Linked DNA regions of Homo sapiens: region 1 is linked to region 2. The links come from fine-mapping of genetic effects on gene expression. A gene starts in region 2. The other region holds a variant in brackets. All regions are shown on one strand. Distances are from middle to middle.

Evidence for each region. PIP is the estimated chance that this variant, and not a neighbour inherited with it, causes the effect. A credible set is the group of variants that fine-mapping cannot tell apart.
Region 1: its variant is the best candidate, but not a certain one, in a credible set for the expression of DRC12 in pancreas (GTEx, PIP 0.68).

What each region holds. Positions count from the first base shown.
Region 1 is chr11:119,112,092-119,116,475 of GRCh38, reverse strand. C2CD2L (C2CD2 like) reads right to left here. Exons shown (of 14, transcript NM_001290474.2): 8 at 4,084-4,148; 9 at 3,867-3,994; 10 at 3,602-3,776; 11 at 2,764-2,865; 12 at 2,488-2,621; 13 at 2,111-2,396; 14 at 1-431. The coding sequence ends at 220. Among named protein-coding and RNA genes, the nearest start is that of C2CD2L, 6.9 kb to the right of the region's middle. The variant T/G (reference allele first, on the strand shown) is at 1,861.
Region 2 is chr11:119,193,305-119,197,688 of GRCh38, reverse strand. It overlaps DRC12 (dynein regulatory complex subunit 12 homolog), which reads left to right and starts at 1,848. Exons shown (of 7, transcript NM_001145018.3): 1 at 1,848-1,890; 2 at 2,190-2,265; 3 at 2,695-2,766; 4 at 3,804-3,923. The coding sequence starts at 2,202.

The sequences.
Region 1 (4,384 bases), 81 kb after region 2:
GCCACCAGTCCCTCGTCCATGTCCTCGGCACCGGGTGCCCACCTCTCATGTGCTTCCCGTTCCAAGTATCCTTCCAACCGGCCCCATGGCCCAGGGTGGACGGGGCTTCCCGGAACCCAGAGGGCTTTCCTGGCCCAGGCACTGGAGATCCAGGAAGGGGTATGGAAGGGGAGGTGGGGAATGGGCTGAGAGAACTCGTGCCCTTTCAGAGCTGGGTCCTCAGAGCTGGGGGCTGGGGTTACCATTGGCCTTGGGTTTGGATTTGAAGGAAAAGCGCTTGATAAGGCGGCGAGAAAAGCTGCCGGCCTTCTTTCGGACACTGGGCGTGGCCGTTGCGTTGGAGAGGTCATCGTGTGATTGGCTCAGGCCAGCTTCCTTCTGCCTAGGCCTCCGGCGGAAGATGAGCTTAGTGCCGCTGCGCAGGAAACTCACTGCAGGGGAAGAGGGGAAGCTGAGGCAGAGAGGGGCACGGGGTGGGGTGAGACGGGGGCAGAGACACGATGGAGAATGGAGGGAAAGAGGATGTGGACAGGATCAGTCCCGTGGCCCAGAAGCCAGGCTTCCTCAGGAAAGAAAGCAGAAACATACTTCTCCATAAGGCTTCGTGAAAAAAAGAAAAAAGAAAACGAAAGCAGAAACAAACATGTGCTTTATCCTTCCTGAGGCAAAAATCGTGGTACTTGTGGGGATCTGTGTACAATCTTAACTCTGCCCGCAAAAGAGATATCACGGAGCTGGCCGCTTTGTGAGGACAAACTGGGATTGGGCCTCTTTCCTATGGGAAGACAAAAGCTACCAGAAGGTACTCCCAAAAGTCTATAAATCATGAAGGGAAAGGTAGGTTGACACTGACTTGTTAACCGAATTCCAGGCTGTGAGCAGGAAGTGGTGCATCTAGAAACTTCAAAGAGGTAAATTCAGAACCAGTATAATGAGCAAGGTGCTCACCCAGCAGGCTTTGGAGGTAGAAACCTCATTATCTCAAGAAGTGATGCAGGCTTAAAAAATAGATAGATAGATCCATGGTTGATAGTCTCACTGGTAGAGGAATGAAGATGTTTTAGGGTGAGCCTCTCATCTTTTAAAGTTAGAAGAACTACCACCACTGGTCACTGCCTGTCTTGCTGCCAGATGGATAATCCAAGGGTAGGATTTCTTATACTCATTGGGGAGAGGGTGCAGATTGAAAGGGAAGAATTTTTTTTTTTTTTTTTTTTTTTTGAGACAGAGTCTCACTCTGTCACCCAGGCTGGAGTGCAGTGTCATGATCTGGGCTCACTGCAACCTCCAACCCCCCAGTTCAAGCGATTCTCCTGCCTCAGCCTCCCAAGTAGCTGGGATTATAGGCGCCTGCCACCACGTCTGGCTAATGTTTGTATTTTTAGTAGAGATGGGGTTTACCCATGTTGGCCAGGCTGGTCTTGAACTCCTGACCTTGTGATCCACCCGCTTTGGCCTCCCAAAGTGCTAGGATTACAGGCATTAACCACCGTGCCCAGCCATGGAAAAAAAAAATTTTTTTTGAGACAGGGTCTCACTCTGTCACCCAGGCTGGAGTGCAGTGGCACAATCACGGCTCACTGCTTCAACCTCCTTGAACCTCAACCTCCCAGGCTCAAGGAATCCTCCCTCCTCAGCCCCCTGAGTAGCTGAGATTACAGGTGTGTGCCACTACGCCCAGCCAATTTATTGTATTTTTAGTAGAGATGGGGTCTCGCCATGTTGCCCAGGCTAGTCTTGAACTCCTGGACTCAGGTAAGCCACCCGCCTTGGCCTCCCAAAGTGCCGGTGTGAGCCACCACACCCTGCCTAGGAATAAATTTTTATAATTTTTTTTTAAAGGGCAGGAAAAATGGCACT[T/G]AGACTCAGGAAGAAAGAACAATGGAGGTAAAGGGAAATAATTTGGCATCCCTTCCTATCACAAGCATGTCAGATCTAGGCCAGGAACCAAGGCACCAAGATCCCCCTCTAGGCTAGCTTGGCTGAACTAGGCTGGGAATCCGGCTATCTCTTAGGGGAGGAAGGAGAAGGCACACTGGCTCGAGGTCCCCCAGGTCATGATATGTGTATAAAAGAAGAGATGAGGGGCACCCTGCCAACGTCCCCCTACCTTTGTGATCCTTGAGGCTGCGGGTCTCCAGGGCACCAGTGGACCCCGTTTCCGACTCAATATCATCCACAGATGGCCTCTCAGAAATATCCGAACGGGTTGTCTCGTCTGCTTCCTGGACACTTGTGGGACTAGAGAGGGCATCTAGCGGTCCTGGAGACATGGCTGGTGGGTCTGAGGGAGGTGAAGAGGGGCCTCCGCTGGTCCCTGCATCATCCTGCACTGAGGCTTCCAGGGATGCCGCATAGCCCAGGGATAGCGCCAACTCGTCCTGAGCAATGGGCACCTGGCAGGAGGGACGGGTTTTAATGGGCAGGAGTGACCGACCCATTAGGGCTTTCTCCCCATCCCAGCTCCTCTCCCCAGAGCCCTGTTACCTTGGAAACACCAGAGATGATGAGAGTGCTGCGCTTGGTGGGTGTCTTCTTGGCCACCCGCCCACTGGGCTCTGTCAGCTGGCGAATCGCTGTCTCTGCTACAGGGTCCAAGCCGTTGGAAAGGTGGCTGTCCCCTGCTAGGGGTGCAGAGAATGAATAACCTGACTTCTCCCTGGCTCTTTCTTGGATTGGAACTCCTCCTATCCCACCCAGAGTACTTTTTGATGCTGGGGCACCAGGGCCAACCCACACTCATGCACCCCATTCCCCACTCACGGCTGCTGCTATGGGAGGTATTGCTGGGGCCACTGCTCTCACTCAGCACAGTTGTCGTCTTCTCGGTCACCTCCACCTTGGACGGGGAGCGGGAGGGGGAGTCTGGTGGGTGGGGGAGGGTCAGTGAGCTGGGAGTTGCTTCAGAGTGGCCCCCACCCCTACTGTCTTTGTTGAGATGCAGACTTTGGGTGACTCAGAGGGCAAGAATGATTAAAGGGTGATTAATCACAAGGGTGATTAGGAAGATGCCGTGGGGACTAAAAGACACCCCAGGAGCTAATGGGAGTGTAGGAAAGTGCCATGGGGCCTGCTGAAGGTGTGGGGAGATGCTATGAAAATATGGAGCGGGGACAGAGGGGGTACTGGGGCTCCCTGAAGTTGGGGCAATTCAGTGGGGCCCCTATAATGGCAGAAGTGCCATGGGGGCCCACTGAGTGGGGTAGAAATGCCACAGAGGCCTCTGGGTTTGTTGGAGGACCCCAGGGGGTGCTGGAGGGCTGAGGGTAGCAGGATGGACAATTATAGTCAGCTGGGGCTAAGGACACCTGTGAAAAGCCAGAGGGGAAGCTGGAAGGTAGGAGTGCAACAGTCCTGTATGAGGAGGGGCAGGAGGATCCAGAAGGGTGGCAGAGTGAGAGGAATTGCTGGGGAAATGGCAGGAGGTAAGGGAAAGTTTGGAAGAGACAAAGATTGGGAGGAAGATGTGGTAGGACTGGAATGGAATGTCTGAAAACAGGGGGAGTTGGAATTAAGGCTCTCTCCTCTTTCACTGTCCTGCCTTGGGTCTGCAGTCCCGGGCCCCTGGCTAGAGCTGGGCTCCCAGGCTCCTTCTCTTTACCTAATTTGCCGTCTATACGGGGCCGGGACTGGACAGTGGTGACTGTGGTGACAATGGTGCCATCGGGCATGATGGTCCGGTCAAGCTCAATCTTCTTGGTAGGTGTGATGCTGGGGCGTGGAGTGGAGGAGGTGGGAGTACCCAGGTTCCGGGGAGAGCCCTCCTCATAGTGAAGCTGCCCAGGGGTGGGAGAGAGAAGAGACAGAGCCTCGGAGACTGCCCATCCCCTGTGTCCTCCCACCTACCCCAGGGGTCAGCTTCTCACCTCCACTGCCATGGTGGCTGCTGGTCCCAGGGCTTTCCCTGGCCCTGGGGTGAGTGGGCACAACTGTCTTCGAGACAGTGGTCTGGAGGGGGAGCCCACAGGCAGTGTGGCCTGGCCTAGGAGTTCGGCTGGGGAAAGGGATGGCACTGTGAGCTGGGCCCATGGCCAGACCCCACTCTGTACCCACCCAGGGGTGCCCCTCCCACCCCTCACTTACTGTCTCCACAGCTGCTGCTCCTCAGCACTTTGAGGGTCAGCTCCCGGCTCTGGGGGCCCAGATCCCTGTGGGACAAGAGGAGATGGGGCAGGAAGGAGAAAATTAGCAAGCTGAACCCACACTTGAGTGGATCACAGGCCAGAGGCAGAGAGCTGTGTACATAAATAAAACGGCATAAATGCTCCAATCAGATTCTCCTGGCCTCCAAATTCTCTCTCGTCCCAAGAGAAAGGGACAGGGCCTGAGTGGAAACCATGCTTCTCAGCTATGCATTCAAATCCTCCCTGGTCCTGCTCTTCCT
Region 2 (4,384 bases):
ATCCAAGAACCTTGGGAGGCCAAGGCAGGTGGATCGCTTGAGGCCAGGAGTTTGAGACCATGCTGGACAACATGGTAAAACCCCATCTCTACAAAAAATACAAAAATTGGCCAGGTGTGGTGGCATGCGCCTGTAGTCCCAGCTACTCAGGAAGTTGAGGTGGGAAGATCACCAGAGCCCAGGGAGACTGAGGCTGTAGTGAGCCGTGATCATGCCACCGCACTCCAGCCTAGGTGACAGAGAGAGACACGGGAAAAAAAAAAAGAAACCTAAAGAAAAGAAAGGGTCTGCAGGTCCCCTAATCCAAAAGGAGAAAAGTCCTGAAGTTTTTGCTATTTTCACTCTAACCAGTATGGTGCCCAGAGATCCAAGTGGCAGATAAATGGCAAGCCTCCAGGATAGCACAGAGCTGGAGGGAAAGTGAGGGCTGCCTGACAAGGGAGGGCCACCCATCATACTCTCTCCCCAATGTTAATTCTTCCAGCCACTCCTGGCTCAAACAGGACGCTAAGAAGTATCCCCAAAGGGAGTCACCCCCACTGTTGCCCAGTAAATAATTTAAAAGCAAAAATGTAGGAAACTCAGGAGAAGGTCAAACAAGTCCACTAGAGGGAGCCCCAACCAACTCTATGCTACAGGGAGCCTCACAAAGCAATGTCTCAACACCTGTCTGAAAATCAACCACACAAGGGAATGGGGAAATGTAGCAATAGATTAAGTCACTAGGAGAGAAGATAGCCATGTAAACACGCAGCTAAAACACAGGCTTTTCAAGAGCTGCAAAATCAAACAATTAAAGATCAGGAAACTGATGCTGAGCAAAGTCAAATGGCTCGCCTCAGTTTACATATCCACAGTTGGGACTCAAACTCACATGTCTTGTCTCTAACCTGAGCTCTTTCCTCCACACTTGCATCCCTCTAGGTCAGTACCCTAGAGTCCATGGGTCCACTATTCCTCTGCGTCTCATTTCTCTGAAGTGGGAAACTCCCTGGACTACCTATTCCTGCACTTATTACCCTCATTCTACAGTGTACTGAAGAGGATCTTCGGTGGTCTGGGAGTTTTGTTTGTTTGAGACAGGGTCTCCCTCTGTCATCCAGGCTGGAGTGCAGTGGTGCAATCATAGCTCACTGCTGCCTCAACCTCCCAGGCTCAAGTGATTCTCCTGCTTCAGCCTCCCAAGTAGCTGAGACTACAGGTGTGCACCACCACACCAGGCTAATTTTTTAATTTTTTTGTAGAAATGAGGTCTCACTGTGTTGTCCAGGCTGGTCTCGAACTCCTGGCCTCAAGTAATCCTCCTGCCTCAGCTTCTCAAAATGCTGGGATTATAGGCACGAGCCACCGCCCCAGCTTAGATCTTCAGTTTTAAGCCTACTAATGTCATTTTGCTGGTGGGACCTCGGGATGTCAGTTGTCCAACATGGCTACTGTCAGTCCTTTTCCTCTGTATCAGCACCACATATTATCTCAGATGTGTACATCTGAATTTGGAAGTCTCCAAATTGCAGGCCATGTCTACATGGCAATGAATCATAACTAATCGACCTCCAAAGCCCTTTCTTTTCAAACTATACTTAGGATTTTGGGATAAGGAAAGAACTGACCCTTTGAGACCTTGATATTTTAAACTTTGTGAGCTGATTTAGCCCATTCCACCTTCCTGTGAACTCCATGTTTCCCAGTTGCCTGGACAACATACAGCCTCTGGAAACCCAACCTTCCAGCCCTCAGTCCTGCCCTCAAGAGAAATTTGCCACCAAGGATTGGCTCCCAGGACCCAGGCCCCGCCTCAGGCTCCTCGCTAGTTGGGCCTTCTCTCTGCCACTCCCCACGAGTGGGTCACTCCACGGGGAGCCCCAACGCTGGCAGGAGAGGATCCTACAGGTAGGAAGTGAGGGTTGAGGATGATGGGAAGAGGGAGGGGAGCAGGTACAGGGATTTCGTTTCTCTAAAAGAGAGTTGCAAGGAATGACTTCTGTACAGAGTCAGCCTGGTTGAGAGAAAAAACTCCATCCTCCCCACTGACCCCAACCCTGTCTGAGGTTCCAAAGAGACTGTGAACTGACTTTTCTGAAGGATATGAGAGACAAATTTGGACTCAGGAGAGTCTCCTGGTTCAGTCTAAAGCTCAGGAAAGCATCCCTGTGTCCAGACCTAAACATAAGGTCCCCTCCTTCTCCCAGGACAGCAAGGAGATGCCACCTAAAAACAAAGAAAAAGGGAAGAAATCTGGGGCACAGAAGAAGAAAAAGAACTGGGGTGAGTCATGGTGGGTGGAGGTGCCCCCTGCTTCTCCATGTTCTGCCATGAAGACCACGCAGAGCTCCTCCAGAGAGAATTCAGCCTTCTGCAGGACAGGATGGAGCTCTCTTGACCTACCTCTTTCATGTCCTCACAGCCAGATCCAGGGAGCTGAGGAAGTGGGGAAATGGTCACCCACGCTCTCCTTTAAGCCCCATCTAGCTCTGTGCCTTCCTAATATATTTGTCATGTGTATTTTGCATATCTGTTATGTGCTGGTCGGTGAGGACACGGTGCTGACTTCAGTAGACTCTGCCACTGTGGATACCTCATTTAGTGGTCCTCAGGTCTGCTGTGGCAAAAGTGCAGGGTGTGGGGTGAGGATGTGAGCAGAGTGAGGAATGCTGAGATCATGAAGAGCTGAGGCTCTGCCACTTGCCACCGCAGGTGCAGATGTGGTGGCCGAGTCCAGGCACAGGCTGGTGGTGCTGGAGAAGGAGCTGCTCCGAGACCACTTGGGTAAGGAGGGTAGAAGCTGGCATGGGTGGGCAACAGGGGAAGTGAAATGGGGCATTTCTGTATCCTGGGGGATTGGAGAGTTGGAGGTATGGTGGGGGGTTAAGTTGACCCTAACCATCCCCTAGTGGAAAAAGATGATGAGAGAGGGTGGGCAGTGAGAGTTGATAAAGGAAGGTGTTTTTTTTGTTTGTTTGTTTTTTGTTTTTTTTGGTTTTTTTGACAGAATTTTGCTCTATTGCCCGGGCTGGAGTGCAGTGGTATGGTCATAGTCCACTGTAATCTCTAACTCCTGGGCCGCAACAATCTTCCCGCCTCAGCCTCCCGAGTAGCTGGTATTACAGGTGCACACCACCATGCCTGGCTACTTTATTTATTTATTTTTTTTTTTTTTTTTTTTTTTTTTTTTTGAGACAGAGTCTTGTGCTCTGTCGCCCAGGCTGGAGTGCAGTGGTGTGATCTCGGCTCACTGCAACCTCTGCCTCCCAGGTTCAAGCGATTCTCCTGCCTCAGCCTCCCGAGTAGCTGGGATTACAGGCACGTGGCCACCACACCTGGCTAATTTTTGTATTCTTAGTAGAGACGGGTTTTCACCATGTTGGCCAGGCTGGTCTCGAACTCTTGACCTTGTGTCCCACCAGCCTTGGCCTCCCGAAGTGCTGGGATTACAGGCGTGAGCCACCGCGCCTGGCCCTATTTATTTTATAGAGACAAGGTCTCACTCTGTTGCCCAGGCAGGTCTCAAACTCCTGGCCTCAAGCAATTCTCCCACCTAAGCCTCCCAAAATATTGGGATTACAGGCATGAGCCACCATGCCAGGCTATCCGAAAAGAACATAGAGGGAGTTTTTACTTCTTAATAATGAGGAGCCTGTGAGACTCTAGGGATAAAAAACAAAAACAACAAAACCCAGAGAGAGAGTAAGAGGCTGGACACCCCACCACCAGATTTCTAGAGGTGGGCAAAGTCCATCACGTTCATGGGGGCTGATTTAGTGGGACCCAGCCAGTCCTGACGGCGGCTCTGGGACTGCTCACAGCTCTACGGAGGGATGAAGCCCGTCGAGCCAAGGCTTCCGAAGACCAGCTGAGGCAGAGGCTGCAAGGGGTGGAGGCTGAGCTGGAAGGGGCCCGAAGTGAAGGGAAGGCCATATATGCAGGTGTGTGGTCGGTTAAGCAGGTGGGCAGGAGACAGGGGCTTGGAGGAGGACAACCAACAGGGTCAGTTGATGCAAGGAAGGGAAACAAGGAGGGCTTCCGACTGCCAGGCCTGGTCTTGGTCTTTCCCAAACAGTACAAATCAGGAAGGATCCTGCAGGAACCAAAGGCAGGTAGGTTCCTGGGATCCCAGGCAGGGGCCTTCCAGGATGCCTGGTGCCATGTGCTTGATGCTGTGTAGGATACACATGCAGTCATAGCCATCATCTCAATCAGCCCATGGGCGGGGAGAAGGGCTAGCATCCCCATCCAAAGCTGGACTGGGGGAGGTAGGTCGGGCTTCCTGTCCCTTCCTCAGGTTTTCATGGTCTGCAGCTTCTCAGAATCACAAAAAGAACCAAGAAGGCCTTTGTGCTCCTGTTCCACTAGACCAAGTAGAGTCTTCCCCACCCACAACTTCATT